2 separate regions of the Homo sapiens genome follow, and region 2 is linked to region 1. The links come from fine-mapping of genetic effects on gene expression. A gene starts in region 1. The other region holds a variant in brackets. All regions are shown on one strand. Distances are between the middles of the regions.

Region 1 (4,398 bases):
AAGGACAAAGTTCAGAAGAACTTTTGGCTGGGCATGGTGGCTCACACCCCAGGAGTTCGAGACCAGCCTGGCCAACATGGCGAAATCCCGTCTTTATTGAAAATACAAAAATTAGCTGGGCGTGGTGGCATACACTATAATCCCAGCTACTCCGGGAGGCTGAAACATGAGAATCCCTTGGAGGTTGAAGAGAGCCGAGATGGCGCCACTGCCCCAGACAGAGCATGGAAGCTCCAGACCCGTTCCCTCTACACCTTGTCTTACATATCACTTCATCTGTATCTTTAAAAATATATTAATAGTAGCCATAAAAAAAGAAGAAAATCATGTCCTTTGCAGCAACAAAGATGCAGCTGGAGGCCACTATCCCAAGTGAATTAATACAGAAACAGAAAACCAAATACAGCATATTCTCGCTTACAAGTGGGAGCTAAACACTGGGAACACAGACACGAAGATGGCAACAATAAACACTGGAGAGTCCAAGAGTGGGGAAGGACGGTGGGGGGATAGGGGTTGAAAAACTACCTGTTGGATACTGTGTTCACTGTTTGGGCAACGGAATCATTAGAAACCCAAACCTCACGATAAGGCAATATACCCATGTAACAAAACTGCATATGTACCCTCTGAATCTAAAATTAAAAATACATAAATACACAAAATAAAATACTTTTATAATAAACCAGTAAACATGTTTCCTTGAGTTTTGTGACCAAATTAATCAAAGCCAAGGAGGGAGGTCACGGGAACTTTGATTTATAGGTGGCCGGTCAGAAGCACAGGTAAAACAACCTGAGGCTTGCCATTGGCACAGAAAGTGGGCACAGTCTTGTGAGACTGAGCCCTCCACTTGTGTGATTTGATGCTATCTCCAAGTAGAGAGCTTCGGAATTGACTTGTAGGGCACCAAGTTGGCATCCCCTGCAGAGCTGACTGTTTGCCTGATGTTTGGGGGAAAATCCCCACACACCACACATCAGGTGTCAAAAGTGTGTTGTGAGTACAGCAGGAGAAACTGAGTGTGCTTTTTCTACACACTTGGTCAATTAAATCAGCTGGAGAATGAGGAATCAAGGAATCACGCTCCTCTGAAGTGGGTAAATGAGGGAACTCAGCATATTCTTTTATAGGCCCTATAATTTTCTCTTTAAAATGTTTACAGTTTACAAGGTGATTAAACCTTCACTTCACTGTCACAATCGTTCTCGAAGAGAGGAATGCTGGGGTGATTATCCTCGGATAAATGACTTACAGCAGTCCCAAAATATTCAGGCCCTGGTTTCCAATTTTGAATAACAATCCACAAGGGCTTCTTTCCCTTGCACCTGAACTGCAGACAAGCCTCCGCTAAAACCCCAGCTTTGCCACACACTCTGTAGTTTTGGCAAATCCCGTGCTAGGGGATAAAAATATTACTTGAGCCACCTAGAACTAAATGATGGCACCTTAAGAGGTGCTTCGGGAGGAACCGGAGCCCCTCGCTGGGAGCTGTCATTCCTTGGTCCCTCTCCAGCTCCAGAGGAACCTAGTCAGGAAGCCTCGCAGGGCGGAGCCATCCGAATTGTAAACAATGGCGGCCTAGCCTCTTCCGTTCCCCGAGGAACCCGGAGGGCGAGCCGCCTAAGCTGGACCTGAGGGTATCGCGGATTTGCGTCTGGGGCCCCGGAGACCCTCTGTAGCCCAGGGCCTGCTGACATCCCGAGAGCCTCTGGAGCCAAGGCCCGTGCAGCTCTGGTCTCGAGGCCTTTCCCCGCAAACCGCAGGTCCGGCGAGGACTCGGGACCCCGAACTCACCCAGCTGGCGAGGGAGAAGACACCCAGCACAGCCCCCATGGTGACGCCAGTGATGGAGGTGGCCGGTCCTGAGGCTGCTTTCTAACACGGTGGTAACTGCCAGCTGAGGTGACTCCCCAGAAACATGACGGTTTCTCAGGCCGGAAACGCAGCCTTCCACAGACGCACGGATGCGTCACGGCGTGGCCCCGCCCACCGTCCGCGACCGGAGCGGCAGAGGGGGGCGCCTGTCATTGGCTGAGGGGGAAGGTGGGGCTAAACCATCCTGGGGTTGCAGGAACTGTGAAGGTGTCATTCCTTACATCATTTGTATTCATTGTGCAAAGATCTGGAAGTTACAGAAGTGTACAGAGAGGCACAGTACGCTCAGAATTTATTCTCTAGTTAATAGGAGATCTGACAACATAAATGCACCGTGCCCCAATGTAATGAATACGATGAAGTAGTATGGGGGAATAGGCTTTCAATAAAGGTGTATTTAGTGCCTCCTATTGTAAGGGGAAAGTAATTTAGCTGGGCAGTAGTCTTGGAAGGCTTCTCTGAAGGATTTATTTTTTAATCTGCGAACTAAAGGATGAGTCCAAATTAACCTAGAAACGATGGAAATCGTATCCTAAAATGTGGGATGCACCCCATTTGGGAAAAATGAATGGCTCTAAGGGTGCATGAAGGACATTAAGCGATATTAAACAGCAGAGTGAGAACGTCCCATTTCAAACCAACAGGCTAGTTGTTTGAGGCCAGTATGGTATTTAACATTTTTCTAGTATTTATCTCCCTTTCTAACAGAGTAAAGCCTTCATTTTCCAGATCTCTCAAACAGGCAACCATGCCTGCAGTTTTAAAATATTGTTTTGTTTTGAGGTGTGTGTTAGCAATAACCTTTTCATTTCTTCCGAGCAATGCTGATTTCCCATTTAAGCAGTGATGTAAATATTCCTTTCAAAATACATGTCAAATTTGAGAGTTCACTTAAAGAAGAAAATGAAAACATTTTTTACTTACACATATAATAGTTTAGGTGGAATGTGGCAAACAATGATGATGTCCGGACAACAAGGTGTCACACTTCAATATCTTCTCCTGTGGTGTGTTAATCTTCCCTGATAGATAAAACTCTCTGGAAGGGGATTCATAATTGAATTCCTTCTGGATTGTCAGCCTTTAGTCTGATAAGGGAAATTCATGAAAAGCCCCTCTCTCCATGTGCTGTTCCCCAAGCAATCATCATACCAGTGTGGCATATTTGGGGATGTTATTTCCTGGATTCCTTGAAAATGTATTCCAAATTCATCTTTTACAGAAATGGAATGAGGCTCAAAGTTTGCCCAAGGCCATGAAAAGGGCTGATGAAAGAAGAAAGAGAACTACTCACATTTAATAATTCCTACCTCTCTTTTCCCAGATCCCTCTCCTCACCACACATACACAAATACCAGCTCAAGTCAAGTTGCTTCAGGACCACTGAACTTTCCAGGTAGTCCTTAACATTCTTGCTTCTTCCTGTCTGAGTATTGCTGGTCTGGACTTAAGAGAGCTGACTGTGATAAATTTTACAGATCGAATTCTACCAGAAACATACCTGTAGTCAAAAAGAATTAGGTTTATTTAGCTTGTTCAGAAAGGGAGAACACATATCAGAGAAAATATAAGGTGTCTTGGTAAGAGGTGACTGGGGAGAACTTATTTTAGGATTTGGGTTTATGCTGGGTAACTAAATCTAAGGAGAGTTTAAGGAGGAGGAGAACAGTTTTGGATTGGACACAGTCAAGGAGTAGAGGCAATTCAGTGATTAGGTATCTTACAAATTTTTATCCAGAAGGAAGAAGGATTAAAACAAGGCTAGATTAGTCCTTGGAAAAGTGTGATACCCTACCTTGTCTTAACCTGAATTGACTCTCTCTTAGCTGAGGGAGACAGACAAACTCCATTTTGGCTCCTTCACTTGCCGCTCCTTACCCATCCCACTTCCTCAAGGATTTAACTTGTGCAAGCTGACTCCCAGCACATCAAAGAATGCAATTAACTGATAAGATACTGTGGCAAGCGATAGCTGCAGTTTCCAGGAATTCACCCGGTTGATAGTACCCTAAGCCCCTGCATTTTTGTCCGGTTGATGGTACCCAAAGCCCCCACATCTATCACCTTGTGATGGATTTAAAGCCCCTGCACCTGGAACTATTTGTTTTCCTGTAACCATTTGTCTTTTTAACTTTTTTGCCTGTTTTACTTCTGTAAGATTGCCTCAGCTAGGCTCCCCCTCCCCTTTCTAAACCAAAGTATAAAAGAAAATCTAGCCCCTTCTTCGGGGCCGAGAGAATTTTAAGCACTAGCCATCTCTCAGTTGCCGGCTAATAAAGGACTCCTGAATTCGTCTCAGAGTGTGGCGTTTCTCTATAATTCGCTCGGTTACAAAAAAAGAAGCAAAATCCACTCATTTATTAGTCAGAATTGGAAGATGTTGAGTCCTATCTGCGGTACCAGAGTGGCTTTGTCTGTATCTTGATCCAACTACATGGTGGTCTTGTCTGATCTTTGTTTATATTCTGTGATCACTGTTTTTGTTCAGTTAGAAACATTAGGTCTAGCTGTCAGCTGAAC
Region 2 (4,398 bases), 54 kb before region 1:
AGGCTTCTGATGGCGGACTTTACCGTGATAGCGGAGGTGGTATTGTATGTCCAGGCACCGCCAGCCACTGTCTTCACGCGGGAACCACAGTGCCAGATCCCCGCAGCTCATCTCTTCATCTTGGTTTTGCCACAGAAAGAGCAAGTGTACTTGGCCTGCTGGCTGATTTCAACTTTCTTCACCATTTTCCAGAGGGAGGCCCCATAGCGGGTCCCGTATTTACCGACGATCCCGACTTTCTTGGTAGGTTTGGCCATGTCACCGCGAACTAGGTCCGAGCCCAGAGAGTTGGACTGGGCTTTTAAAAAACAGTTACTGGTTGTCACAGCAGAGCTTTCTAGAAACATCTTACAAGTCATGTCCACCACCCCCAGCCTCAGTTTTTTCATATCCTTACTGCGGGTGGCAGCACCTTACTGGGTGGGGGTTTGTGGTGAGGGCTGAGTGAAGTAGTGAATTTGCGGAGCTAACACTCCAGAATTCCACAATCACAGACCTGCAAATTCCATCTCCGTGGGACCATTTACAAGTGATGTGGCTTCTCTGAGTCTGTTTACTCCTTTGTTAAATGGAAGAGCCTCTACTCCATTGCATCTCTGTAAGGTTAGTTAAGTGAATACATATGACATGCTTAGCACGGGACCTGGCACCTGGTAAGAACTCAGTCCATGCTGGGCGTTTTTAATACAACGGTGGGTGGCTGGTACTGACGGAGGGGATTTGGGATCTCCACCCCTTCCGTTTCCCTCACTATTCCAGGCCCTGTTTTGGAAATGCTTCAGCCAGGCTGGGATCCAGGGCCCCTGGGAACAGAGAGGACATACTGTACCTCCAAGCAGCCATGCTGACTCAGGTTAGGAAATCAATGTGTGACCACAAAAACACAGCCAGGTTCTTCCCACTTCTGGGAAATCTGCACAGCCAACCCATGGGCATCTCTTTACCCTGTCCCGAGAGGTGGCCAGCTTCGTTCTAGGACCTGATTCTGCAGCTTGTGAGCACAAGGCTGGCACATGGAGAAACAGGAGTCTCTCGCTCCTTAGGGAACCCCAGGCCCGGGGTCACAAGCTTTGCACGACCCTCTGATTGGGGTCAAACATGTCTGGTGTTTGCGAAGCCTCTGACTTCCCCCAGCCTGCGTCTGGACACTTCTCAAGCCAAGCCAGGCTCCGGACCACTGGTTGGGCAACGCATGACCTCAAACTGGGTCAGACCCATCAGATGAGCATCTGTTTAAGAGTATAGGACACTTTGTTCTTTAGAATCCCAAGGGTCAGAGTATGAACCCTCCCCGTCCCCAATTCAAACTCCTCCTCCATCACTTACTGCCATTTACTTACTCTGTTACTTTGAGCAAGTTTTTCAGCTCTCTGAGTTCTAGTTTTCCTAGCCACCAAATGCAGACTAACAAGTACCTTCACCTTCCAGGGTTGATGTGAGATTCGGGTAGTGAATGTCAAAGAATGGCACACATATTAGCAGGCACTCCATAAGGGGGAGTTATTATTGCAAACAGGGGCACTAGACACCAAGTAAAAAACAGTATGGTACATATGCTACAGTGGATGAGAGGGCAGAGCTGAAAGCCAGACTGCCTGGGTTCCAAACCAGGCTACTGGCCAGGTGCGGTGGCTCATGCCTGTAATCCTAGCACTTTGGGAGGCCAAGGCGGGTGGCTCACTTGAGGCCAGGAATTCGAGACCAACCTGGCCAATATGGCGAAACCCCATCTCTACTAAAAATGCAAATAAAATTAGCTGGGCGTGGTGGCATGTCCCTGTAATCCCAGCTACTC[A/G]GGAGACTGAGGCAAGAGAATAGCCTGAACCCAGGAGGCAGAGGTTGCAGTGAGCCAAGATTGTGCCACTGCACTCCAGCCTGGGCCACAGAGTGAGACGCTGCCTCAAAACAAAATAATACAAAACAAAACAGGCTGCCCTGCCACCTCCTGTGTGGCCACAGGGAAAGTCTCTAAGCCTCAGTTTTCTTCTCTGTAAAATGGGAATAATCATAATACAGTTATAAGGATTCAATTAGATTAGTTGCACTGGAAACAGTGCCTGGCACATAGTATCACCTAATAACCATTAACGATTTTTTATTTTGTTTTATTTTTCCAGTCTCTGCCCCAGTTGGGAAGCATGAACTATTTTTAATTAGCCACACAAGTTAGTAATGTCGGTAATGGTGCTGAAATCACACGGGTCAGTGTTTTGAACAAAATTCACATGGAAGTCATATTTAGTGAGCATCTACCTACATACCTGGTGCTAACAGAAACCATACATTTAGATACATGTATATGTACATGTAAACACACATATGCACACACACATAGTGTGAAGTAAGTGTTGCTGTCCTCATTTTTTAAAACCTTTATATTATAGAGCAAAACAGTTGCAGAAAACCACACAAATTAAATTTGTAGCAGCCAGGTGCAGTGGCTTACACCTGTAATCCCACCACTTTGAGAAGCCGAGGTGAGTAGATCACTTGAGCTCAGGAGTTTGAGACCAACCTGGGGAACATGGCAAAACCTGAAATGCCATCTCTACGAAAAATACATAAATTAGCCAGGCATGGTTGGCACGTACCTGTAGCCCCAGTTACTCAGGAGGCTGAAGCAGGAGGATTACTTGAGTCTAGGGAGGTCTGAGGCCACAGTGAGCTGAGATCACACTACTGTACTCCACCCCAGGCAACAAAGTGAGACACTATCTCAAAAAAAAAAAATTGTAGCTTAGTGAGTTATATCAAGGCAAACACCCTGTAACCACCACCCCGGTCAAAATACAGAATTTTTTCAGCCACCTCAGGGTTCCCCTCCCCACCTCACCAGGTACTCCATACCAATCACAGCCCATCCCCCCAAAATAATCACTAATCCGACTATTAATTACTTCCTTGCATTTCTTCATGACTTAATCATCTGAGTGTGCATTCCTAGATGTTATTGTTTAGTTGAGTCCACTTTTTATTTTTATTTATTTATTTTTTGTTGAGATGGAGTCTCGCTCAACCGCCCAGGCAGTGGCATGATCTTTCTTGGCTCACTGCAACCACCGTCTACCGTGTTCAACAGATTCTCCTGTCTCAGCCTCCCCAGTAGCTGGGATTACAGGCACCCACCATCATACCTGGCTAATTTTTGTATTTTAGTAGAGACGGAGTTTCTCCATGTTGGTCAGGCTGGTCTCGAACTCCGGACCTCAGGTGATCCGCCCGCCTCAGCCTCCCAAAGTGCTGGCATTACAGGCGTGAGCCGCCACTCCCGGCTAAACATATTTGATAAGTTTCAATCAACTGCAAGTATTGTCTTTGTTGCAGCTAAAATTGTTTCATCCACAGGCTGGCTTGTAAGTCCTTTTGGTGTGACCCTGGTAGCCTTCGATAGCTTCCTTGTTAATTGGCGTGACAAGATATTCCAGGCTTATTTTGTATATTTCCTGCTACAGATCTGGAATGAGTAATTTCTTCAAGAAGTCTTTTTATTTGTATTAATCAAAACTATTATCTGGGTGCAAGATATGCTCATTGCTACAAGATTGATTATGGTTTAAGTCTTTTTAATAGCTAGAACTAGGTATTATATATATGAATACACGCATATACATTTCCTTTAAAAATAGTTTCGAGTTCACATTGATATATCCAATGTAAATAGAGTTTTATAGGATGTTTATGGAATCTATTCTGTATTACACCTGTAGTTCCTTTCTTCCACACTTGGAATCTTTCATTTTCAAGGATACAGGGGCTGATAAAATGGAAAGATGCTATAATTACTGGTTAAAATGACTCAGTAATTCACAGGGGTTAAAAACTCCTTTAAACCTTAGGTTGTGTGGCAAACACCTTACACTCGCCCACTACTGGAGTTGGCAAACGCTTTCCAGTTTCAGCTGCTGTTTTCCCAACAACACGTGAATACATGTTGCAATTTTAGCACTCTCCATGTCTCAGGCCCGCCAGACACCTTGCTGCTTCCCTTCTGTTTCTACTGCACAGAGATGCCAATGGCATGCAGGCCTTGTAGCTGTTGGTGATTTGTCCCCACACGTTTTTTGGAGTTCATGAAGATGCCTTGTCACTTAGTTTTGTTGTAAATGTGTTTATGAATTTTTTTCTATTTTTATTTGGGGATTTGGGGATATTCAAATCTATGCTAGGCATTATTGCCTCCATCTTTCCAGAATTCCCCAGCTGGTATTATTTTCACCAATGAGGAAACTGAGCCCCAGGGGAAATGTGATTTGCCCAAGATCACACAGCCAGTGACAGCGCAGAGATGCATGTGAGGTCACCTGCTTTCATGCAAGGTACAGAGAAGATGCCTGATATGGACCACTCCCTCCTCATCTTCCTCCCTATTTCCACTGGTCAGTGTCTTTACAGGATTCT

The links. PIP is the estimated chance that this variant, and not a neighbour inherited with it, causes the effect. A credible set is the group of variants that fine-mapping cannot tell apart.
Region 2: its variant is the best candidate, but not a certain one, in a credible set for the expression of SERINC3 in monocytes (Quach 2016, PIP 0.88).

What each region holds. Positions count from the first base shown.
Region 1 is chr20:44,520,116-44,524,513 of GRCh38, forward strand. It overlaps SERINC3 (serine incorporator 3), which reads right to left and starts at 1,955. Exons shown (of 10, transcript NM_006811.4): 1 at 1,798-1,955. The coding sequence starts at 1,836. RefSeq lists enhancers at 1,166-1,718, 1,637-1,946, 1,853-2,147, 4,180-4,398.
Region 2 is chr20:44,466,586-44,470,983 of GRCh38, forward strand. It overlaps the pseudogene RPL37AP1. Among named protein-coding and RNA genes, the nearest start is that of LINC01620, 3.4 kb to the left of the region's middle. The variant A/G (reference allele first, on the strand shown) is at 1,796.